Homo sapiens: one gene and its partners. The protein of the gene in region 4 purifies or fractionates together with the protein of the main gene of each other region. This does not show direct contact. Each region holds a gene or a part of one and is shown on either strand. Other genes may lie near its edges.

Region 1 (3,944 bases), on a different chromosome or scaffold from region 4:
AGCTGCACACAGGAGCCGAGCAACCCCCGGACTGCTGGGTAGGCGATTTCGGAGATGTAGACCTGCCAGCAATCAGATGAGGATTTATGGCTGGGCGCAGTGGCTCATGCCTGCAATCCCAGCACTCTGGGAGGCCGAGGCGGGCAGATCACCAGAGGTTGGGAGTTTGAGACTGGCCTGACCAACAGGGAGAAACCCCATCTCTACTAAAAATACAAAATTAGCTGGGCCTAGTGGCACACATCTGTAATCCCAGCTACTCAGGAGGTTGAGGGAGGAGAATCACTTGAACCCTGGAGGTGGAGGTTGCGGTGAGCCAAGATCCCACCATTGCACTCCAGCCTGGGCAACAAGAGCGAAACTCCGAAATTTTTAAATAAAAATTAAAAAAAAAAAAAAAAAGATGAGGCTTTACTCAGGCTCCAAGAGTTCTTAAAATGGAAAGGTCTCAGCCATTCAGAGCTGAGGAAAGTCCTTGCAGGGGGTTACGGCAGGCCCTGAAGCCCCTTAGTGGAACCTGCCTAGGTGAGCAGAGCCATCCCCAGGTCCCCACCACTGAAAGATCTGTGGCAGGTGTTTAAAGGGGATTAAGGGTAACGGAGAGGGCTGCATATGATGACGAGAGGCGGTGGGCACAGAGCTTCTCAAGCCTTCGTTTAATGTGCACAGACACCCTGGATAAATCATAGATTCCGATGCAGTAGGTCTGGACAGGCGAAAGATTCCACCTTGTTAACCAGCTCCACGTGACGCCCACCCAGGATCCTAGCCCAGGGCCCACGCTTTGAGTGGTGGCCTTGGACTAGAAGCACGAACTCTCTGCCTCGGTCACTACCAGTGGCTGCCACTAGCTCCCTCCTGGGCCCACAGGCCACCAGGCCCTCACCCATGCATCTAAGGTTATTCCATAGCTTAGGCCCCTAACACAGGTGTGTTTCTGCCCAGTTAAAAAAACCAAAGACATAAAAGGCCCAGCTTCTTCCCCACCCTCTTCTGGTCCAGCTGCTGCTGCCGGTTAGCAAACGTTGGTGAAATGAGCACCCAGGGAGGGGCCTGAGTGGCTGCTTTCAACCTCACTTGGGGGAGATATTGTCCAAGCCCATGGCTGGGGGCAGTTCATGGGTCACCAAGCTGTCAGGATCCAGTCCTCTACAAGCCATGCCAGGGGCTGTCTATCCAAAGTCCCACTGAATCCTGACCACTACCTCAGGGGCTAATGCCATAATCCCTGTTTTCCAGAGAAGGAAACTGAGGCCCAGGGAGGCACTCTGCTCAGGTTAGTGGCAGAACCAGGATTTGACCCAGATGTTCGGGGCTCCCAAGTGGGCAGCCTGGGTCAGGAGGGGGAAAGGGGGAAGATGGGGAAGCCAGAGGGGCTGGCCTGTGAGAAGGGAAGGGGAACACAGAGGCCAGCAGCCTTTGCCCCAAGAGAAATCAGGACAGGAACTTCCTGCTAATTGCAGTCATTGACCCGAAGCCAGGGATGAAAACCAAAATGTAGGGAGTGGGCTCCTGTGGATCATCCGCAGGTTTGCAGAGCAAAAGAGGGGCACGGCTAAGTGGGACAACCCTGGGTTCCTGCAACTGCTTCCCCTCTGACTAGCTGTGGACCTCGCCTGGGCAAAGGACTTCACCTTTCCGAGACTGCATGTCATGACCTCAGTGTAAAATGGAGAGAACAGTAGGATCCTTCCCAGGGTCGACGGGAGGGACCGCGAGATAACGCAGGGACTTCAAGCCTGGCACCCAGAAGGTCCCGCCAGGGGGAGCCGCGCCCCCAGGCCTGGGGAGCGGTTTGTCCCACTCCCCCTCGGTCTCAGGCCGCGAGACAGGACACTCGAGAGACGGGACACTCACCGGGGCCACTAGGGAGGCAACACCGCAGGCCAGGCCGGTGAGGAGGCGGCCCCCCAGCAGCATCCACACGTCCTGGGCCGCGGTGATGACGGCAAAGCCGGCCACGAAGGGCACGGAGCACAGCAAGAGGCTCAGCTTGCGCCCGGCGCGGTCCACCAGCCAGCCGCCCAGCACTCCCCCCGCCGCGGCACCCAGGGTCACGACAGCCTGGAGGCGGGCGGCTGCTGAGGAGGGGGCGCCGAAGCCGCAGCCCATCCTCCCCCTCCACCCACTCCCCGCGGGCTCAGAGGTAAAAGAGCCGGGGCCCCGCGCCCGTCCCGAGGGGAGGGGTAGGGGGCTGAGGGGCCCGGTGCTCGTCCCGAGGGGAGGGGTGGGGGCTGAGGGGCTCGATGCCCGTCCCGAGGGAAGGGATGGGGGGCAGAGAGGCCCAATGCCTGTCTCGTGGGGAAAGGTGGTGGCGGCGGGGCCCGATGCCTGTCCCGAGGGGAAGGGTGGGGGGCGGAGGGTCCCGATGCCCGTCCCGAGAGGAGGGCGTGGGGTCCCAGGGCGGGAGGAGCGAGCCCGGGGCCTCACCCCGAACCAGGAGGCGGCGGCGTCGTCCAGGCGCGGGGCCGGGGGCGCGGCGCGCTGCAGGCTAGGGATGGCCGGGGAGCTGTAGCCGAGCGCGAAGCCGAAGCTGAGTGGGCCCAGGGCAGCGGCGAAGGCGGCGAGGAAGACGCGGCGGCCGCGGGGCGCGCTGGGGGGACAGGGCCGAGGGTGAGCGGAGCGGACGCGGAGGGGCGGGAGGGCGAGGCCGCATCCGGGCCCGGGTTCCCCGGAGCTCACCTGCCGCCAGGAGGCCCCAGAAGCGGCTGGGTTTCCTCTGGGTCCTCGGGCGTCATGTCGGCGGCCAACGCCGATCGGCCAGCTCTGGCGCCTGAACCGCCACGGGCCCTGCGAGTGCGGCCCGCACCGGCCTCTCGCAGCCAATGGGCGGCGGGGGGTGGGGGACGGTGCTGGGCGGGATCGGAACCGCAGAGCAGGAGCAGCCAATAGGAACGCAAGGCGGGGCTAGCGAATCAGCTAGGACCCGCCCTTCACATTAAAGCAGACCAATGGGAGCATAGAACCGATTAGCGAAGCGCGCTGGAACCGCCCCTAGGGCGGAGCGGTCCAAGGTACAGGTGGGGCGGAGTTTCCGTCTGGGAGAACAACCACCCAATTGGAGTGTAGTGCGAGCCCATAGACGGGGCCAGAGAGCTGCCTCAGAACTGAGCTGGCCAATGAGGTTGGAGGGAGGAGTTTTTTTTCTGGCACCTCCTCTCAATCTGGCTTCAACCAATGAGGGTAGAGGCGGGGCGAAGGCGAAGCACGTGGGCCTCAGCCCGAGACTTCCCGCCCCCAACTCCGAGAAGCTGCACCTGTCCTGCCCGGTCGGGTCTGCAGTTCCTGCTCCGCTTTAATCGCTGCCCTGGGGACTGTATTGGAGGCGTCTGACCTATGCCTGGGCCCAGCTCTGCAGGGGAGAGAGCCTCTAAGCAGACCGTCCTGGGCCGCCTCTCTCTCCTCTCGGAGGGCGAGACTGGTCAGACGCTCCCGCTGGGCTGCTGGCGGCGGAGGCGTGGCCCTGTGCACCGAAACCCACTTTCATGCTTCCCAGATTGCTGAAGGCTCGGGTCTCCAGGTGCTGAGGACCAGTGGTAGGTGGGGTCCCCCACGCCGTATGTGTGACAGATCTGGGCTCCACTCCCCCTCTTAAGTGTCACTCACTTCACAGGGAGTCCTGACTCTTGAATCTTCATCTACCTGCCTCCATATTTTGAGTTCCCTGTGGATTTTAATGCCACCTTCTCCCGTGTGCACCCAAGTCGAATGATGAGGCACTGTTGGATCTCACCAGTTGTACCCGATTCATACCCAACACTCTGGGTGCAGGCAGCTGTGGTGGAATGCTGGTGTAATTCTGGAAAGAGCCAGGGCATGGGAGTAAGAGGCTTGGCTTGTAATCCCTCTCTGGGCCTTGTGTTTCCTCATCTCTAAGTGGGGATGACCATTATCTTCCAGGAGAGTTGTGAAGCAAGGTAATGTATATAAGACATGTGAAGCAC
Region 2 (3,500 bases), on a different chromosome or scaffold from region 4:
CTGGCATTAGGATTTATACTCAAATCTTTCTGATGCCACAAAGGAGGCCACTTTCCATCAATTTCTGGCGAGGCCCTGAGCCAAGTGCTTCCTTTGCATTACTTCACCAAATCCTCATACAACAAATAATAGCATCATCATAATACTACCACTATCCCATCTTACAGGCAAGAAAACATCCGCTGAGCCTCTACCTGGACCACACCCGGGCCAAGCCCTGTACTTGGATCCTGTTTGCCTCACGTGACAACCGGGAAGATGGGTGCTCAGCTAACCCTTGGTTTACGGAGGAGCAAACTGAGGCGAAGTCACTGGTTCAACCACACACAACCGAACGCACATGACTGAATAAGCAATTCCCCTCCCACGCATTACATGGGAAAACAAAAAGCATTTGTAAAGTGCTTGCGGACACATTTTAGCGATTAGTACTATTATGATGAACATTTCGGTACTTGGCAATTACCCCATAAAGTCAGTGCTGCTGCCCCTATTCTCCGGAAGAGCACAATGACGTTCACAGAGTCAGTGGCAGAGACAAGGAACTGTGGCTCTCAATCCTCTGCCACATGTTGGTCTCCTGGGACCACGGCTGGGCCCCTTCACACCTTGAAGCTCCCCTGCCTGTCTCCAGCCTCTCTCTGGTGCCCAGGAGCCCCTGCAGACCTGGGGTCTTCATAGGGCTGGCTGGAATTCCTGCCCCATGGATTCCTAGCTGTGGGCCCTAAGGGGTCTCTGGGCATCCCCCAGCCAGCTACAAAAAGGTGGAAAGGTGAAGGAGCACCAGGGACCTGGGTTCAAATCCCAGCTCTGCCCCTCACTTGCTGTGTGACTTGGGCACATTCTTTTTTTTTTTTTTTTTTTTTTGAGATAGAGTCTCACTCTGTCACCCAGGCTAGAGTGCAATGGTTCCATCTTGGCTCACTGCAACCTCCACCTCCCAGGATCAAATGATTCTCCTGTCTCAGCCTCCTGAGTAGCTGGATTACAGGCATGCACCACCAGGCCCGGCTAACTTTTTTTGTATTTTTAGTAGAAACGGGGTTTTGCCATGTTGGCCAGGCTGGTCTCGAACTCCTGACCTCAGGTGATCCACCTGTCTTGGCGTCCCAAAGTGCTTGGATTACAGGTATGAGCCACTGCGCCTGGCCTGACTTGGGCACATTCTTAATGTCTCTGGGCCCTGGTTTCTGTAATCCGGAAAATGGGTGATGGTGAAGAAGAGATAAGACTGTGTGCAGGTCTTATGAGCAATAAACACCTCATAAATCTTAGTGACTGCAGTGGGTTGAACGGTGTCCTATCCAAAGTTCATGCCCACCTGGAACCTCAGAATGTGACCTTGTTTGGAAATAGGATCTTTGCAGATGGAATTAGCTAAGGATTTTGAGATGAAATCATCTTGGGTCTAGGTTGGGCCCTAAATCCAATGACCAATGTCTTTAGAAGCAGAGGAGAGGACACCGAGAGACACACAGGAAGGAGTGAGGTGAAGATGAAAGCAGAGATGGGTGTGACGCAGCCACAAGGTGAGGAAGAGCAAGGGTTGCTGGCCACTGCCCGTAGCTAGGGAGACAAGGGACAGGCTCTTCCTCAGCCTCTCCAGGAAAAGCCAACCCTGCTGGCTCCTGACTCTAGACTTCTGGCTTCCAGAAGTGGGAGACAATACACGTCTGTTGTTTGAAGCCACCTAGCCTGTGGTCATTTGTTATGGCAGCCACAGAAAACAAACACAACGGGCTGTCCCTGCAGTTGCTCTCCTTGCTACTTCCTGAGACTTGCAGTGTTTCTGACCCTTCACCCCAAGGGGCAGTGGGCAGGAGAAGCTGCCCTCACCAAGGACACTGGGGGGCAGGATCACTGACCCCTCTCACAAGGGGAGAGCTTGGGACCAGAGGGCTTACACAGCTTTTCCAAGGTCACTCGCCAGTGATGAGCCGGCCTGGGACCCAGCTCTCCTGACCCTCAGACCAACACACTCTCCCCCATACCCAGGGACCTCTGTTTCTTTAGGAACCTGAGCTGTGGCCCCTGCTCGGGCCTGGTCACTTGCCCTCCTGGTCCTGCCAGCCGTGGTCTCTGGCCACATATCTGGAACTCTCTGACCCTGCAGAGATTTCCTAGACTGTGAATGACACTTCTAAGGCTTTTACCGTCACTCCCGCTTCCCCCTGCCTCCCGCCGCCTCCATCCAGACTGTCAAGTGAAGACCGGGGTGAAGCCGAAGCCACACTGCCCAGCAGGAGGTCCCAGGAGTTTTCCATAGCATAACCCATTTTTTAAACGGTTTTTTTTTTTTTTTGAGACAGGGTCTCGCTCTGTCATCCAGGCTGGAGTGCAGTGGCACAATCACGGCTCACTGCAGCCTTGACCTCCCGGACTCAAGCGATCCTCCCACCTCAGCCTCCTGCATAGCTGGGACGACAGGAGTATGCCACCACACCCTGCTAATTTTTAAATTTTTTGTAGAGATGGGGTCTTGGAGAGTGCCCTTGGAGCATGGCTCCCAGCTGTCTGCTGAGAAGATGGCCTTGTTTTGGATTTGAGGGTTCATCGGTCCTCAGGAGGGCCTGATTTAGCTGTGCAGGGTGAAGCCAGGGGCTAGGGGTTGGTAGGGGACTGGTGGGGAGAGGAAATGAGTTTCAGTCTCATTCAGTCACCCACTAGGCTGGAGACCTCAGTTTCCCCACGTGTGACAGGTACAGGCAGAACAGCATGGTGTCTAGGCCACCCCCAGCTCTGAGCGCCTATGTGCTCCACCAAGCCCACTCTTAAGCACCTCAGCTCCCCAGGGTGCGGAGTGAAATGGGTGAAAACCCAGGGGTACCTGTGGAAATGTAGCCCCTGGGACCTCCTGATTCATCAAGGTAGGGCCCAGAAATCTGCCCCCATCAGGTGATCTTTAGGTTAATTAATGCATTAATGGGTTTCCTGACCCATACCTGTGGCTGGGCAGGGGGAAGGCAGAGGAGGGCAGTGGGACAGCAGGCGGATGGGCCAGTGTTTCAGGCTCTGCACATAGCATAAGCCACAGGCAGCTTTTCTGACCTCCGATCTGCAAACTAGAGATTTCTTTCCTTTTTTCCCTTTCTGATCTCAGAGTTGGCCAGTTGCAGCAGCAAGGTGCTCACCTGCTCCGGCTCCTGATCCTGATGCCAATCACACCTTCGTGCACAGCCCTCTACAGTGTCCAGGGCTCTCTGGCAGCTGTGGCATAAAACAGGGCAGAGATAGGCCTGCCTGGCCACAGATGAGAAGATTGAGGGCAGAGAGAGGAAGTGACTTGGCCAAGATCACACAGCTGGTCAGGAGCAGGGCTGGGCCCAGGGCTCTCATACTTTCCACCCACAGTCAAACACCTGGGGAAAACCAGGGGCCAACACAGGCCTCTGCTGCTTCTTGTCTGGGGCCTGAGAGCACTTGCAAGAAGCCCAGGTCTCTACAGAACACGGTGTGACCTTGGACAAGTCCCTGTGCCTGGCTGGGCCACAGTTTCCTTT
Region 3 (3,500 bases), on a different chromosome or scaffold from region 4:
TTAAAAAGGTCTATGATTCATATTTGTATCCAAAGATGAGGAAAAAAATTAGAGTTTATGAAATATCTTTCAGGACCATGGCCAACTTGTCTCTCAGATCTAGATGGACTGGCAGAAGCTTGTCATAGGACAAAGGTAGCAGATTGCTTTCATCCTCTAGAGACCCTAGAAAAGATAGAGAGGGCCGGCGTTGTCATGTCCTGAAGCCTTGGTGCTGCACCCAGTCATCGTTAGTTTCTGTGAGTTGGTGGGCAGCAGAGCAACCGGCGTCGGGCGCGAGGGAGAGGAGGCTGACTCACCAGGCATTACTGGTGCAGTTTTGTCTTTTATTTTCCAGTTCAGAGGTACTACTTTGTCTGTTGGTTTTATTTTTTTAATCTCAAGTGAAATTGGAAAGAAATATTATCTTTTAAAATGATATAAATGGTGGGGGTGTTTCTTCTCAAATCAGTTGTTGTATTGGAAGTTCCCAAAGTATCTATGATAGAAGAAGAAAGAGGAACTAGTCAAAATAGTAAGTGCTACTATAATGGTTTGCTGGATCAGTTCCATAGGCTGACGAAACACAAAGTTCAGGCTACTGGCTTTGCTTCTTATCCTAGTATTAGAGTGATTTCTCCAGTGGTTCCTAGTGTCGATATCATAAACCTTGAATGAATCAATCTGTCTCAAACACACACATACACACATACACACACACACACACACACACACACACACTCCTGCACAGAGGGTTCTCAGTGACCATAAGTCACTCAGAGTGGAGCTGCTCCTTCCTCCAGCATCAGCAATGATTCAAAATGTCATGCTTTATACAAATTCAGAACTCTCTGCCTGCCTCCTAACTTTTTTTTTTAATCAGAGCATAAGACTGTTGAAGTTGGTATCTGGCAAAATTAAAACATTTAATTTAGGGGATAGAACCTATAACCAAGGTGTTTGCAAAGTCAGTTCAGTGAGATTCCTTGGGCTAACTTGATGTGTGAAAGGCCTAAGGAGAAAAAGAATCTTTTCAAATCCAGAAGGCAACTTCTTGCCAGCTATCAGGCTGGAGGCCCCTTTGGATCTTGTAGGCTGCATTTTATGAATTCATTGAGACTGTCTGTATCTTTGGTCAACTCTGTAAACATCTGATTGTGTCCACCATGATTCTTTCCTTTGGAACCCGACTATTTTTCTTTCAATTTCTGCCCCACAAATTCCTCACAGGTTCAACAACAAGCAGGCTTATTCCACAATCATCCTTATAAGTTTCCCTTACACATTAATGTTAACATCTGGTGTTACTCTATTTAGAACCTTAGTGCGAATATTCTACTTAGAACCCTAGGGCTTCAGCTCGGTCCCCACTGTTCATTACCCCGGTATAACTTTTTCCAAGCCCATAAGTCTCTCTAACTCTCCAAGAAGTCTGTCTTTAGTATTCAGCCACATTTCTACTACTAAACCAAGCTCTAGTTCTTGAGGTTCTCCAGGCTGTTTTCCTTCTCCATAAAATGAGAATAATGAGTGTACCTACCTTGTAAGATTATTGTGAGGATTAAATATGTTAGTACACATGATGCACTAAAAATATGTGGCCCATTGCAAGTGCTCAATAATTGTTCATTATAATCTTATTGAGCTACATGTCTTGTTTACTGGGGGTGATAATTCTCATTCACTGTTTGTCAAAGTGTTGCTCCTAGTTCAAAAGGATTTGATAAAGTGGGTAAAGGAGAGAAAACAATAAAAGTTTTCTCTCTGATTTTGAGCCTTGATGATTAGTTCTCGGGCTAATTTTAAACATGAAGATGATTTAGAGGAAAGACTAAATACTTTCCTTTCAGTTCAGGTCTGCTGGGTTCAACCCAGTTATTTGCATGAAAGGACAACAATAGCACTATTATGTTTATTTTTAAAAAAGATAAGTAGATCTTTCTTCCTCCCAGTGTCTCATGAGAATAGCGTGAATTCACAGGGACGGCACATGGAACCATTATATTCTCTTTACCCAAAATGGATACAGGACACATTAGCAATCTTAAGATGGAGAAACTGGGCAGAGAGATTGACTTAGGAGAGATGAAGATAATTTAATGTTAGACATGTGGTAGTTGAGTTAAAAATAAAGCATTTGGATAGAAAAATCTTCATGAAATTAAGAATGTGAAAGTATAGTGAGAGAAATTAGAATAAGAAAACAGATACAAAAATTTTCAGTGGTCTAAAGCTGACCTCTAAAACCATGAAAACAAACGTCTCCCTTGGGAGAGAATGCAGAAATAGAACATGAGGCTCCATTATCCCACTTTCATGTAAGATGTTTTTAAGCTCAGAATACTTTTGAGATTGCTCTTTGACTTCTTTTTTTTTCCAGAAACAAAACCATGGGCAGTGTATGCTGGGCTGTTAGGGGGTGTCATCATGATTCTCATCATGGTGGTAATACTACAGTTGAGAAGAAGAGGTAGGTGTCTGGCAATAAATAGATTCTTATCACACTCTCTGTGGTAAGCAGGGGACCTCTCTCCACAGGCTCGGACTTGCTCTCACAACTCTGGCTTTCTGCATGGGGCCACCTTTGCAAAAATAGTAGATAAACATATCCTGGGACCTTGCTTAATTCAGTCTAATTCAACATGTCTTGATCCCCTCTACTAGGCTGTGGAAAGAAATAGAAGAGCCACAGGTTTCTAATGTGAGAGACATTATTCAGATAATTTCAGTTTAGTGTGACTAGCACTGCCATCAGGGTAAACACAGGATGCTGAAGAAGTGAACAAGAGGTTTAAGAGTATTCACTGGGAACAGAATTCAGAAAATTATTGGATCTCATCCAAAAAGTCACCAGGGTTAGAATGAAACCAATAAGGCACAATTATTCCCCTGCAGTTGAAGTGCCTAGAGGTACCATCCCCTGTCCTCTCTTCCAAATTTCCCTATGATACAATATCTCAGGGCATTGTGCTCCCCTCAGCCACCTTGACTACTACCAACCAATACTGGAGTCAAAATGTCCTGACCCAAGACCAGGAGAGATGCCCCGGCTGCCTTCCCATGGTAAGGATAGAACTTGATCCTCATAACACTGAGCTGATGACTGATTTCATTCTCAAGTAGATCAGTGTCATCTACACACAACCTTCTTAGAAAAGCCCTTACCTCAGCACTCTGATGTTGGTTTTGCATATATAAAAAAATCTAGATCATAGCACAGCGACCTACTTGTGTCTCATTTCCTCCATCTAAGAGTTAGCCAGGTAGGAGGGATGGGTGATTCAGATAGAAATTAGGTTGACAGCCTATGGGGCTCGGGGTAGGGCAATCACATTTAGCTCATACTATAAGGAAATAGTGAGATGACCCAGGATGAGAAAACTGAACTTAACTTATCCACATTAACCTACCTAGTAAAATTGCTGGGATCCTACGCCATACTCTTTCCTCAACCACACTTGGCTTATCACATGGTTGTGCTCTAAGGGAATAGTGCTCCCCATCCCACAATTCCCCACTAC
Region 4 (3,105 bases):
GACCCTTCAAATGCAAGATTTCCAGCCATCTCAGGTGTAAGTTGTGCCACATGGTCTGGGTCTTGTTACTTTTACAATCATCAGAATAAACCAACCAAATGTAACATTATTCTTCTTTTGGAATGATTAGTTACTATGTCATTACATCTTTCCACCAGAAAACTGTGTGCATCAATGTTCTTAGGGGCTTGAATAGGATGTTCACCTCCATAGCTCCCTCTAGGAAGGCTTGTCTGAGTGTTGGGGAGTCTCTCTTCATATATATATATTTAGGTATATATTCTTTTGTTGCAGTCCTCTTATTCCTTTTCCTATCTTTTTCTTTCCTTCTGTTTGCAGTTCTATCTAGTGTTTTACTGCTGCCTTTAGCTTATACCCGTGTCACACAATGCTTGATCACCCTCCCTTTTCCTGTCCTTTTCAAAGCTTATCAGAACTGAGCTTTGGTCCTTCAGAGTCATCCTCAGCAAGGTAACAGAACATGTCTATCCACTCATGAAAATGTTTGACTTATCTTTTAATATTTAGATAAGAGATGATACTTAACATTCACAAGTTACTGTAAATGCTGGGGACCATAAGCATGGGGCAGGCCACGGTAAAGATCATTTTGAATGGGCAAGTCTTTCAATTTCCCTTACATCACACCAAGCAGGCAAAGCCTAAATACAGGGCAGGACTTGCCTATGTGATGTACCATTCCAGCCCTCCTTTTCAAAGAAAACTTGAGCAGGGACCCTGGGATACCACCAGCGATGGTGGGACTCCCTTTTGCAATCCAAATAAGCACGATCTAAATGAGTCCAGGTTGGAGCAGATAAGGAATGGGGTTGAAAAGGAGATGTGTTCTTGAAATCGGCCAATTTCATAGCCTGGAGGAGACATTTGTGGTTAGCTGAGTCACACTGCCTTGGGATTAGCCAGCTCTGCTTTCTGTTTCAACAATAAAAAGTCTTGCAAAGCTGCTGGCATGTGAGACAGAGGTATCCAGAAAATTTTGGCATCTTTTCCAGCGGCATAATGAGTCTTAGGGAAGAGACTTGTTAGAGCGTGGTCCATGCACTCTACCACCGGAGAGAGGTCCATGTTCACATAGGATTTATTGCCTTTCAGTTTGTCTAGACCTAAAAAGAGACAAAAGTACATTTACTCTTTGGTAGAAGGGGAAAGCAGAGTGGAAGTCTAGGGTGCAAAGGGGAGGATGGATACAAGGGGATTTATTCTGAATTGTCCATTATAATTGAGGCTCATTTTGAGGATTTACTATCTATTCCTCAGAAAATGATATTGCAATGCTTTCTTTAGACCAGCAGCTCTCAAGATTGGGTTGGCAGCAGATTCTTCTAGAGAGCTCATTAAAACCCAGGTTTCTCGGTTCCACCTCCAGAGTTTCTGACTGAGGTATGAGGTGGGGCCCAAGAATGAGCATTTCTAACAAATTTCCAGATGATGCTGATGCTGCTGGTCCAGGGATCAAACTTTGATCCCTCAGTGCTTTAGAGCAATGAGGAAACGATACTTCATAAAGCCCATGAGGCCCCTAAGCCTAGAAAGTTGTATGTTTGATTTCTAATTTGTTTTAGGGGATTATGTGTCTAGAGAAAATGTGGGTTGCACATGTGCTTGTGCATGTATGTGCATGCATGTGTGGATGTAATTGTGCACTTGTATACTTGTATAGGCTTCTATAATCTGTAAATAAAGAGAGAATCATCCCCAAATGTACTGACTCAGGAAGCTAAAAGGATCCCAGTTCTCATGCAAATGAGATGTTTGAATAATGAGCGAAGATACCTTTAGAGAGGCAGGGATTTTACAAGGGATTAGTGGTGGATTACAACCCCAGTCTTTTCAATACATGGTATTGGGAAAACAGTATATCCACATGAAGAAGAATGAAACTGAATCTTACACCATATAAAAAAATCAACTTAAAATGGATTGAAGACTTAAACATAGACCTGAAATTATAAAACTGCCAAAAGAGGCCTGGCATGGTGGCTCACACCTGTAATTACAGCACTTTGGGAGGCTGAGGTGGGAAGATCACTTGATCCCAGGGAGTTCAAGACCATCCTGGGCACCATAGTGTGACCTCATCTCTATTAAAAAAAAAAAAAAACTACTAGAAGAAAACATAAAGGAAATACTTCTTGACATTGGTCTGGGCAATGATTTCTTTGGATATGACCCCAAAAACACAAAGCTAAACAACAGCAAAACTAGATAAGTGGGACTGTATCCAACTAAAAAGCTTCTGCACAGCAAAGGAAACAGTTGAAAGAGTGAAGAGAAAACATACAGAATGGGAAAAAATATTTGCAAACTTTATATCTTAGGCACAGTTAATATCCAAAATGTATAAGAAACTCAACAGCAAGAAAAGAAATAACCTGATTAAAAATGGGAAGAGAATCTGAACAGACTTTTCTCAAAAGAAGATACAAATGGCCAACAGGTATATGAAAAAAATGTTTGTCACCACTAATCATCAGGGAAATGCAAATTAAAACCAAAATGAGATATCACCTCACATTTGTTAGAATGGCTACTATCAAAAGACAAAAGATAACAAGTATTGACAAGGGCATGGAGAAAACCTCTTGTATACTGTTTGTGAGAATGTAAATTAGTACAGTCATTATGGAAAATGGCATAGAGATTTCCCCCCCAAATTCAAAGTAGAGCTATCATATGATTCTCACATACTTTTAAACCATACCTGAGCTGTGTCTTCTCAAGGGAAAGTCTATGATGTTAGATCTTTCTTTCAACTTCAAGTCCCACTGGCCACAAGTTGTTCAAAGAACCTAATAAGTCTTAGTGGCTATTTTAAACTCCTACTATCCCAGCTTGGGAAATTAAGAAAAGATGACCTTCAATTTGTGGTCTACTTTGGGACCGTGACTTTGGCTGATCTCCAAGTCCTGACTTGAAAACTCTAGTGAGAACAACCAGTGTAAAACTGAGCTCAATGCCTTTTGGTATTTCTGAGACAGAACACATGAACCAGGAACCAAGCCAAAAATAATTGGAGATGGAAGTCAGTGATATATTCAAAGGCATTTAAAAAGTATCGGTATCAATATCAAACAGAGAAAGCTC

The links.
Region 1: the proteins of DHRS9 (region 4) and SLC2A8 purify together in Homo sapiens (affinity purification with mass spectrometry; 3 studies listed by BioGRID and IntAct, with this or other methods). This does not show direct contact.
Region 2: the proteins of DHRS9 (region 4) and ATP2B2 purify together in Homo sapiens (affinity purification with mass spectrometry; 2 studies listed by BioGRID and IntAct, with this or other methods). This does not show direct contact.
Region 3: the proteins of DHRS9 (region 4) and SLAMF1 purify together in Homo sapiens (affinity purification with mass spectrometry; one large-scale study listed by BioGRID and IntAct). This does not show direct contact.

The regions. Positions count from the first base shown.
Region 1 is NC_000009.12:127,396,025-127,399,968, reverse strand, and holds the start of SLC2A8 (solute carrier family 2, facilitated glucose transporter member 8), read right to left. Parts: upstream 2,801-3,944; 5' UTR 2,739-2,800; coding exon 2,683-2,738; intron 2,594-2,682; coding exon 2,431-2,593; coding exon of another isoform or gene 2,065-2,430; coding exon 1,858-2,064; intron 1,798-1,857; exon of another isoform or gene 1,656-1,797; coding exon of another isoform or gene 1,635-1,655; intron 63-1,634; coding exon 1-62.
Region 2 is NC_000003.12:10,499,087-10,502,586, forward strand, and holds part of ATP2B2 (plasma membrane calcium-transporting ATPase 2), read right to left. Parts: intron 1-3,500. UniProt on the Homo sapiens protein: ATP-driven Ca(2+) ion pump involved in the maintenance of basal intracellular Ca(2+) levels in specialized cells of cerebellar circuit and vestibular and cochlear systems.
Region 3 is NC_000001.11:160,623,045-160,626,544, reverse strand, and holds part of SLAMF1 (signaling lymphocytic activation molecule isoform b precursor), read left to right. Parts: intron 1-2,359; coding exon 2,360-2,449; intron 2,450-2,959; coding exon of another isoform or gene 2,960-3,042; intron 3,043-3,500.
Region 4 is NC_000002.12:169,093,563-169,096,667, reverse strand, and holds the end of DHRS9 (dehydrogenase/reductase SDR family member 9), read right to left. Parts: intron 1,125-3,105; coding exon 901-1,124; 3' UTR 501-900; downstream 1-500. UniProt on the Homo sapiens protein: 3-alpha-hydroxysteroid dehydrogenase that converts 3-alpha-tetrahydroprogesterone (allopregnanolone) to dihydroxyprogesterone and 3-alpha-androstanediol to dihydroxyprogesterone. Also plays a role in the biosynthesis of retinoic acid from retinaldehyde.